Linked DNA regions of Homo sapiens: region 2 is linked to region 1. The links come from fine-mapping of genetic effects on gene expression. A gene starts in region 1. The other region holds a variant in brackets. All regions are shown on one strand. Distances are from middle to middle. Region 1 holds the start of ZNF619 (zinc finger protein 619). Region 2 overlaps ENTPD3 (ectonucleoside triphosphate diphosphohydrolase 3).

Region 1 (5,507 bases):
AATATACGTCTTTCAGATTTTAAGAAATAAATCAATAATGATAAAATGAAACACGATATGGTATTAGACGTGTTCATGAAAAAGAAAAATGATACTAAAAATCAATGATATAGAAAAAGCAATGAAATATGAAAAAACTAAAAGTTGGTTCTGTGAAAAATTCAATAAAAGAGAAAAAGTATAGGTAAACAGTAATTGATACAAGAAAAGGGACAAATCCCTTCAGACATGGACATATAAAAAGTAAGATGATTTTGTATCAGTAAATTTGACAGCCTATGCCAAATTATTTTCTATGGAAGAAAGTACCAAAATTGGTTAAAGGCATTAAAAACCTGAATGGACTAATAACCACACAAGAGACGGAAAAGTTGTCAAATATAAAAAGGTGTTGGGTCCAGAATGACTTATAACAGGTGAAATTTTCATACCTTTATAGGACATTTTGGCCCTAAGTTATGCTTTCCTAAATAATATGAAACTGTATATATACCTTCTATAGACATGGTCTCACTCTGTTGCCCAGGCTGGAGTTCAGTAGTGTAATGAGTTTCTTGGTTGGATGCAAACTGGTGCATTCACTGAGGTGGGGGAACCCTGGAGGAGGAACAGGGGGATGAGGGAAGGATGATGAGATTAGTTTGGAACATTTTGAATTTTAGGCTTTTGTAGAATAATTAGAAATCAACAGGCAGTTTCAAACCCAGACCTCTAACTCCAAGCTATCTGCACACTGCCTGGCCAATAGGAAGCACTATTGCCATGAGTGTTATTAAATCTGGACTGCAGAAAGAGATACGGGAGTGTCTTACAGGAGAGTGGTGAGATACGCACGAATAATAATAATGTCAGCAATAATATAGCACTTATTTTGACTTAGTTCAGTACAGAACTGGACTCTGTCCATAAAAAGAGTCAAACTCAGTAAAATATTTAAAGAGATTTATTCTAAACTAAATATGAGGACCAGTGACCCACGACACAGCCCCAGGGGGTCCTGAGATCTTGTGCTCAAGGTGGTCGGGCTACAGCTTGGTTTTACATGTTTTAGGAAGATATAAGATATCAATCAATAAATGTAGGATGTACATTAGCTCCATCCGGAAAGGAGGGACAACTCGAAGTGGGGAGTGTGGGGGCACCTTCCAGGGCGTAGGTGGATTCAAAGATTTCCTTTCCTTTCCTTTCCTTTTTCCTTTCCTTTCCTTTCCTTTCCTTTCCTTTCCTTTCTTTTCTTTTGAAGATTTCTAACTGGCAATTAGTTGAAAGAGTTATGGACTGGGCACGGTGGCTCACGCCTGTAATCCCAGCACTTTGGGAGGCCGAGGCGGGCGGATCACGAGGTCAGGAGATCGAGACCATCCTGGCTAACACGGTGAAACCCCGTCTCTACTAAAAATACAAAAAATTAGCTGGGCATGGTGGCGGGCGCCTGTAGTTCCAGCTACTCAGGAGGCTGAGGCAGGAGAATGGCATGAGCCCGGGAGGCAGAGCTTGCAGTGAGCCGAGATCGCGCCACTGCACTGCAGCCTGGGCGACAGAGCAAGACTCTGTCTCAAAAAAAAAAAAAAAAAAAAAAAGTTATTAGCTAAAGACCTGGAATCAATTGAAGGGAATGTCTGAGTTAAGATAAGGGGTTTTGGAGACCAATGTTCTTATTATGCAGATGAAACCTCCAGGTAGCAGGCTTCAGAGAGAAACGATTGTAAATGTTTCTTACCAGACTTCAAAAGGTGCCAAACTCTTAGTTAATTCTCTACTGGATCAAGGAAAACACTTTGAAAGTGAAGGGGATTCTTTACAGGATGTAGATTTTCTTCACAAAAGACAGCTTTACAGGGTCATTTCAAAATATGTCAAAGAAATACATTTTAGGGTAAAATACTTCAGTTTATTTCAGGGCCTGTTATCTGTCACATGAGACTATACTAGAGTCAGGTTAGAATTTGATGTCTTATTGCTATAAAGAGTTTGTTTTGGGCTGGGCGTGGTGGCTCACGCCTGTAATCCCAGCACTTTGGGAGGCCGAGGCGGGCGATCACGAGGTCTAGTTCAAGACCAGCCTGGTCAACATGGTGAAATCCCGTCTCTACTAAGAATACAAAAATTAGCCGGGCGTGTTGGCACGTTCCTGTAATCCCAGCTACTCAGGAGGCTGAGGCAGGAGAATTGCTTGAACCCGGGAGGCGGAGGTTGCAGTGAGCCGAGATCGGGAAACTGTACTCCAGCCTGGGCTACAGAGTAAGACTCCATCTCGGAAAAAAAAAAAAAAAGTTTTAGTCAGTCTCAAGATCTCTGTTTTAATGTTAATGCTGGTCCGTAGTGCCTGAATTCCAAGGGCATAACGAGGCAAGTCCGATCCCCTGCTTCCCATCATGGCCTGAACTAGATTGCCAGGTTTTCTTTGGAATGTTTTGGCTGAGAGAAGTGGTCCATTCAGTTGGTTGGGGGACTTAGAATTTTATTTTTGGTTTACAAAACTGTTGCATGAATTGACTCAGTTAATTCACTGAATTTATAAATTACAAACTTTTACCATTCTCAACTGATAAATTGAGGCAACGATTTAAGTATAACTTGAGCAAGTCCATATAGAGTGGAGCCAGGAACGCAGACAATGAGACACCATACCCCATGGTCTTAGGTCACAGTCATTCAGTGGGAGACAGGGGCTATAAATTCATTAGAAGGTTAAGTTAGGAATTAAGTAATTAGGTAAGGAATTAGGAATTCAGTTAATTAAGTTACAAATTGTTAAATATGGAGGAATTTATCATGTAGTTGGGGTACTAAGACATAAGAGAAAATAATAAAGAAAAACAGGAGCGGCCGGGCGCGGTGGCTCACGCCTGTATTCCCAGCACTTTGGGAGGCCGAGGCGGGCGGACAGCTTGAGCTCAGGAGTTCGAGAACAGCCTGCGCAACATAGCGAGACCCCCGTTTCAAAAAACACACGAAAAAATTAAAATTAAAAAACAAACAAACCAGGCGCAGAGCGGTTGTGGAGAAGGGAAGCGAAGGGTTGGAGTTTCGTTTCGTGGGAACCATAGAGAAGGGCCAGCCTCCCGGCTTCCTAGAGAGGCTGTAGGGACCGACGGCCGGCCAGCTAATGCTTCCGTCTTGGCCACCTTGCGAGCGCTCGGGTTGAGTTTCCCGGGCTTCCCTGACTCGGCTACCTGTTCTGGAGGTCAGGCTTTGGGCCCTTGCAGAGGTCGCCGAGGGGCCCGCGCCGCCGCCAGAGCCTGGGCCCAGTCCCCAGTCTTCAGAGACGCCCTCGACCTTCCTGCTCCGAGGAGCTGGCCTGATGTCCTCGGGTCGCGGTATTCATGGGGAGGATGGGAGCCGTGACTATAGGGTCTCCTGCTTCCCAGGGTGGAGCGTTCAGATCCCGGTTAGGTCTTCGGTCAGCATCACCCGCTGGGACATTAAGCGTCTTACCCTTGTCACCCGGGGCTGGGTCACCACTTATATTTTGTCCTGCAGCCTGTGGTTTGTTTAGGGGTCCCCGTTATATCCTACTTTCTCTCCAGAGACTTGTTTTGGGTTTTTGCCATGAACACTAGAAGCATTCAATACAAACTGTTTAGTAATGCATTCATAGTGGGGCCAAGAATTTTTTTTAAAAAACAGCCACGAATCCACTGCAGTTCTTGACTCTTACTTTACAGATATTCTTTCTAGAGTTTCCAGTGTCACCAAGCAGATCTATAGGAGAATATGCAGAGGGAGCATTTGCAACATCCCATGAATCAGTGGAGAGGGTGAATGACAGCAGCTAGTGTGCCAAGAATATCTGCAATGCTAGTGGCAGGAGACAGAGGGGAAGAGGCGGCAAGTGTAGGAGACGAGACAGATCAGTCTCATTGTGGTTCTCTCTTAGCTCCGCAGGTTCTTACTTTTTCAAACCTAGAGGGCAGTGCATGAAGCCAGGGGTCATCAGCCATGCTCCAGACAGTGTGGTTCCAGGTGAGCAGAGCTTTCTTTCAGCTTTCCATACTCAGAACAGATATGGAAGGTCAGTACAGCCCCAGTAGCCTGACTTGGCCAGTCTCATGCTTAGTTTTACATCCTTCAATAAAGTATGTAAAAACAGTATGCGAGGGGAGTTGACGAACGAGAGTAGGTGAATTTGGGAGAGTCAGGTAGGTTGGAAAAGAAGGAATGAATTATCCTAGAAAGTGGGAATCTGCATTCATGAGAACTGAAAGTGTGGCCTGGAGATGAGCAGCTTTTGCATTACAGAGGGCTCTTGTTAGGCAAAATGTCAGGCCCCCTCCCCAGATCTCCTAAATCAGAATCTACATTTTTACAAGATCTGGAAAATTAAAGGGCAGATTAAAATTTGAGGAGTGCTAGTCTGCGTTCACAGTACACAAAGAAAAGCCATTTCTGAGGTTAAATAGACACTTCCAAGGGAGGAGTTTACCCTGCAGACCACTCAGTTAAGGTACAGTGAAGCCAGAACTGGAAACATGTGGAAAATGTAGATTGATGAGGGAGATGTATTTTTGGAGGAATGATGAGTTTGGAGCTGAAGCCAGTGCCTTTAGCTCAATGCGAAGACGTCAGTCTAACCTCTGTGAGAGTCTATATCCTTTCTTGGCTACAAATTCATGTAGCATTGGGAGGACTTTTCCCTCCAGTTTTCTTGGTGGTAGATGATGGTTTTACTGGATTTTTCTCCAGTGTCCTAGATCATGGAATGAGAAAGCTGAGTTTATCATGTAATGGATGTATCTTGTAATGAGAAAGCTCCATCCCAAGGACTTAAAAACAATGTGTGTGTCCTTTTGGTGGATATTGGACCATCCACTTCTGTTCGAGAACTTCAGCAAAAATTCATTCCTACAAGTCAGGAAGTGTGCTGTGGGGGTATGCTGTGCTCTCCTGGTGCTTTGCCTGAAGTACAGAAATCACTTAGGATTAGATTCCCCAAAGAGGACCCCAAATGACAGTGGATTAAACGAGGTAAAGGCTTCTCTCTCATACAAAAGTATCAAGAGTCAATACAGGGCTAGTGTGGCAGCTCCCCTATTATGCTCTCAGGCTCTGTCTTTCTGCTCTACCATCCTAGCAGTGTCTCACCTGCTCTAGGCCACTTTATTGTCCAAGGTGGCTGCTTGATCTCTAGCCATCATGTGTGCATTCCAGCTAGAAGAGGAGCTGCCCAAAAAAAGATGAACCTCTCTCTTTTAGGAACCTTCCCATAAGTCCCCAACAATATTTATACTTGCATTTCATTGGCCCCACTTGGTTGCCCGGGTTGAGTGCAACCTCAAGTAAAATTAGGATTCCAATACTAAGAAAGAAAGGGGGTACACACACACCTGTCAGTCTTTGCTACAATCTCTAAGAGGAACATTTGTCATTTAGAATCTTCTAGGAAGTTCCCCCAATCTCATCTGTGGTTGTAGTAAGTGCTGAGATTTAGATGATATCATGTGCCAGGTGATATCTTCGTGCGTTACAGATAATAACTTAATGCCATTCTTGTAAGAGTCCTTTCA
Region 2 (5,249 bases), 54 kb before region 1:
AAAGAAAAAAAGTACAAATCAGATTTGGAAGTAGATACTAAATAGCCAATTGATTAGTTTGATTTTTTTTTCTTTTTTCTTTTTTTCTTTTTTTTTTTGGAGATGGAGTCTTGCTCTGTCACCCAGGCTGGAGTGCAGTGGTGTGATCTTGGCTCACTGCAAGCTCTGCCTCTCGGGTTCACGCCATTCTCCTACCTCAGCCTCCCGAGTAGCTGGGACTACAGGTGCCCGCCACCATGCCCAGCTAATTTTTTCTATTTTTTTTTAGTAGAGATGGGGTTTCACTGTGTTAGCCAGGATGGCCTCGATCTCCTGACCTCGTGATCCGCCCGCCTTGGCCTCCCAAAGTGCTGGAATTACACGTGTGAGCCACCACGCCCCGCATATTTTTTCTTTCAACCAATATTTCAGCCATAGGGTGACCCAAGTATGATATGCTATAGATTATATGTAACAATTTTTGAAAATCATAGATTTTTTTCATACCATAGAGGCAGAAAGGGGCCTGTTTGCCTCCTTCTCAGTCATATGAAGATTTTTCTGGAAAACACTCATTTGGGTTATATTTGATGAATATTAAGCTTTTATAGGATTTTTGCAGAATCTTGTCACTGACCTTTGTTAAATAATTGCATTACTTGAATATGTACCTCAGTTTCCTCATCAGTAAAATGAAAGGGTTGGGCTAAATGTCTGAGTCAAGATTTTACTGTAGGGTGGCCAGGTGCAGTGGCTCACACCTGTAATCCTAGCACTTTGGGAGGCTAAGGCAGGAGAATCTCTTGTGCCCAGGAGTTTGAGACCAACCTGGGTAACACAGGGAGACCCCACCTCTACAAAACAAAAAATAATAATAATTAATTAATTTAAATTTTTTTTTTTTTTTTGAGACGGAGTCTTGCTTTGTCACCCAGGCTGGAGTGTAATGGTGCAATCTCGGTTTGCTGCAACCTCCGCCTCCCGGGTTCAAGTGGTTCTCCTGCCTCAGCCTCCTGAGTAGCTGGGACTACAGGTGCGTGCCACCACGCCTGGCTAATTTTTGTATTTTTAGGAAAGACGGGGTTTCACCATGTTGCCCAGGCTGGTCTCAAACTCCTGACCTCAAATGATCTGCCTGCCTCAGCCTCCTAAAGTGCTGGGATTACAGATGTGAGCCATCACACCCAGCCAAAAGAAAAGATTTTACTGTAGGGGAAGCAGTATGCCTTAGTGGCTTAAGTTGAACATAGTTCAAATCCAATTCCTTAGAAAAGAGAGTTCATAAATTGAATCAACAACATTCAGGACTTTAGCATAAAATAGAGTATTTTGCACCAGTAGATTAAAGATTGAATAGTCATATGGAAAAAGTAAAGCCAAGTCTCTGAGTCTTTAAATCAAATAAATTTCAATGGATAAAAGATTTATATGTGACAAGGATATTTGTTTGTAATGGCAAAATGATTGGGAACCACCTCAATGTTCATCTAGATGATATTCCTTAAATAAAGTATGGTTTATTTGTACAGTGGAATACTATGCAGCTACTAAAAAAATAGGCCACTGTATAAGTACAATGAATGGAAAGATCTCAAAGATATATAATTTTAAGTGAGAAAAGCAACGGGTAGAATGGGGTATATAAAGTGCTACCATTTATGGCTTTAAAAAAAGAAAAGCATGGGAGAAAATATATATATTTGCATGTGCATGCCAGATCTTTGGAAGGATACACAAAAACTGGCAATAGTGATTGTTTCCAGAAAAAGGCCTGATGGCTGCAAGTGGATGAGAAGGAGACTTCACTTTCATATGTTTATTTGTACCTTTTGGATTATTTTGCTAGATGGATGGGTGATATTCTACTTAAAATGATACATTATATATATCCATTTTCTCACCAAGTGAAGTTCATAAAACCTGGTTCATAGGGCTATCATAAGAGCTGGATCAGATAATGTGAGAGAGAGCCTAGCGCTATGCCTGGTACGAGGTAATTGTCACACACACACACACACACACACACCCTTTTCCCACCCCTACTTGAATTATCTAGACAACCTGTGATCAAAGACATGCTGACACAGAATGGTATTTTTTGTTTCTCTCTTGGCATTGGAGGGTAGTGATAGAATTTGCAAAAGGGAAATAC[T/G]TGGCTCTCCACAAAAAAAGTGGTTTCTAATACCTTACTCTTTTTTTTTTTTTTTTACTTAGAGATTTTATTATTATTATTATTATTATACTTTAAGTTTTAGGGTACATGTGCACAATGTGCAGGTTAGTTACATATGTATACATGTACCATGCTGGTGTGCTGCACCCATTAACTCGTCATTTAGCATTAGGTATATCTCCTAATGCTATCCTTCCCCCCTCCCCCCACCCCACAACAGTCCCCAGAGTGTGATGTTCCCCTTCCTGTGTCCATGTGTTCTCATTGTTCAATTCCCATCTATGAGTGAGAACATGTGGTGTTTGGTTTTTTGTCCTTGCGATAGTTTACTGAGAATGATGATTTTCAATTTCATCCATGTCCCTACAAAGGACATGAACTCATCATGTTTTATGGCTTCATAGTATTCCATGGTGTATATGTGCCATATTTTCTTAATCCAGTCTATCACTATTGGACATTTGGGTTGATTCCAAGTCTTTGCTATTGTGAATAGTGCCGCAATAAACATACGTGTCTAACACCTTACTCTTATACCTACAGAATTCTCCTACCAAAAACCATCTCACCAATCCCTGTTACCCTCGGGATTATAGCATCAGCTTCACCATGGGCCATGTATTTGATAGCCTGTGCACTGTGGACCAGAGGCCAGAAAGTTATAACCCCAATGATGTCATCACTTTTGAAGGAACTGGGGACCCATCTCTGTGTAAGGAGAAGGTGGCTTCCATATTTGACTTCAAAGCTTGCCATGATCAAGAAACCTGTTCTTTTGATGGGGTTTATCAGCCAAAGATTAAAGGGCCATTTGTGGTAAGAGCAAAACCTTCTGAAAGATTCCTTTCCCCATTGAATATTCATTTCTCACTTTTCTGTTTCTCCTCTGCTGACTTGTTAGCCACCTTCTTATTCCTCACCCATAAACCTTTCTATTATACCCCATTCTGAGAACTAATTTTCTTCTGTATTACTTATTTCCAGGCTTTTGCAGGATTCTACTACACAGCCAGTGCTTTAAATCTTTCAGGTAGCTTTTCCCTGGACACCTTCAACTCCAGCACCTGGAATTTCTGCTCACAGAATTGGAGTCAGGTCAGTATTTAAAGAGAAGGGATCAATGTCAGTACAAAAAAATATGGTAGAATCTATTCTATGTGTGTGTATTCTGAATTTAGCCTTTATGCTCTTCTATTTCCATCACATCTGTAAAATAAAAGGAATAAGGGAATCTACTCCCACACCTGTGGTGTGAATTAATGTTATAACTACATGCACAATGGTTAGAACAATATTTGGCATATAATAAGCACTCAATGAGTTTAAAGATTAGTATATTGTGATATTATATAGGGATATTTTCATAATTATATTGTGTGATTATATGATTGTATTATAAAGTATTTTCTATTATGAAATTATGGGTGATAAGATTCTTTAAAACATGACTTTTAACCCAAGGTGTTCATTTTAAAACATACCTGCCTGCCCTGCCTCTCAGATGTTTTAAACCTTTCAGCTCCCACTGCTGCTCCCCAAATTTGATGAGGTATATGCCCGCTCTTACTGCTTCTCAGCCAACTACATCTACCACTTGTTTGTGAACGGTTACAAATTCACAGAGGAGACTTGGCCCCAAATACACTTTGAAAAAGAAGTAAGTTAAGCACAAATCATTTTCTCTTCTTCTTCCCAACAGAGAGGTTTGTATGTGTGTGTGGAACAAATGTAGAAGGTAAAAGGGTATTAATGAGTTAAACTCACTGGGTGGAAGCTGATCAGACTGATCCCTTGTGAGTTTCCCAGAAGAGGTCATGGAGAATTTAGAAGAGTTGCTCATGGGTATACATTCTCCTGGAAAAGACTGGAAGCCAAGGGCCAATGGACTAGGCGGTCCTGGAGGGCAGAGACCTGTCTTGGTATCTTCATATTCCCAGCACTCTGCACAAGGAATAGAGCCTAGAAGGTACTTAGTAAATGTTGGTTGAATTCATAAATAAATATGTTAAGGATATGAGACTTTTCATCCTGAAAAGAAGCTTTAAATGTAACAGTTTTTTAAAGAGGATAGTAACTAATTCTTCTCCATTTTATTCAGATATCAGAGTAAGATACAGGCCTTAGGGCCTGATGGATTTGCATTAGCATTAAATAAATATTTTCTCTTTGAATGAACCTGAAGTCATTATATTTACTGACAAAGATTTGGGGGATGGGGAAGATATTCTTAGCTCAGGGTTTAATATATTTAAAAATATGTATATTTATAGATATCTATAAATACATACATATATATATATGATGGTCAAGTGACCAGAATGGTCCAAAGCTGGAATCACAGCTGTCACCTGGTGACAGGTGAAAGGACCTCCATACCTTGTTTTTAGGCAGGGCTAAGCCTTGTGAATATGTTCAGCCAGCACTATGTTCCCCAGGTTCCAGAGAATTTTCTCATTTCAGGAATAGCTGATATGAAGCCTGAAGGATGTCTGGAGTCAGCCTGTTCAATACCAGCTTCAGCAATAATTAGATTAAACCAATCAATATCCTGCATTAGGCCTCTGACTATCTACTTTTACATAAATAAAATTGAGTCATCTACAAAAAAATAAGGATGTCTGGAGACATAAGGACTGTTGGTAGCATGTACTCTCTAAGCTTTGCTTCTAATAAATCTAATTACCAGTAAAGTATATTATAAGAATGGAGAATGACTTTCCATTTGAATGCCAGTTTGAGTTGACATAATATTCTAAGTTAAAAGTTCCCTTTTTTTAATTATAAAGAATTTTGTGTCCAGCCAAATTAGTATTTAAATGTGAAGATGTAGGCTGGGCACGGTGGCTCACACCTGTAATCCCAGCGCTTTGGGAGGCCGAGGCAGGCGGATCACCTGAGGTCAGGAGTTTGAGACCAGCCTGACCAACATGGAGAAACCCTGTCTCTACTAAAAATACGAAATTAGCTGGGCATGTTGGTGCATGCCTGTAATCCCAGCTACTCAGAGGCTGAGGCAGGAGAATCACTTGCACCTGGGAGGTGAAGGTTGCCGTGAGCCGAGATCACGCCATTGCACTCCAGCCTGGGCAACAACAGC

Evidence for each region. PIP is the estimated chance that this variant, and not a neighbour inherited with it, causes the effect.
Region 2: its variant is the best candidate, but not a certain one, in a credible set for the expression of ZNF619 in whole blood (TOPMed, PIP 0.53).

The regions. Positions count from the first base shown.
Region 1 is chr3:40,474,038-40,479,544 of GRCh38, forward strand. ZNF619 (zinc finger protein 619) reads left to right here and starts at 3,085. Exons shown (of 5, transcript NM_001145093.4): 1 at 3,085-3,320; 2 at 3,881-3,966. The coding sequence starts at 3,943. RefSeq lists an enhancer at 3,259-3,398.
Region 2 is chr3:40,420,155-40,425,403 of GRCh38, forward strand. It overlaps ENTPD3 (ectonucleoside triphosphate diphosphohydrolase 3), which reads left to right. Exons shown (of 11, transcript NM_001248.4): 8 at 2,696-2,968; 9 at 3,137-3,247; 10 at 3,672-3,809. The region is part of intron 2 of ENTPD3-AS1 (ENTPD3, EIF1B and MYRIP antisense RNA 1); the gene reads right to left. Among named protein-coding and RNA genes, the nearest start is that of ENTPD3-AS1, 31 kb to the right of the region's middle. The variant T/G (reference allele first, on the strand shown) is at 2,132.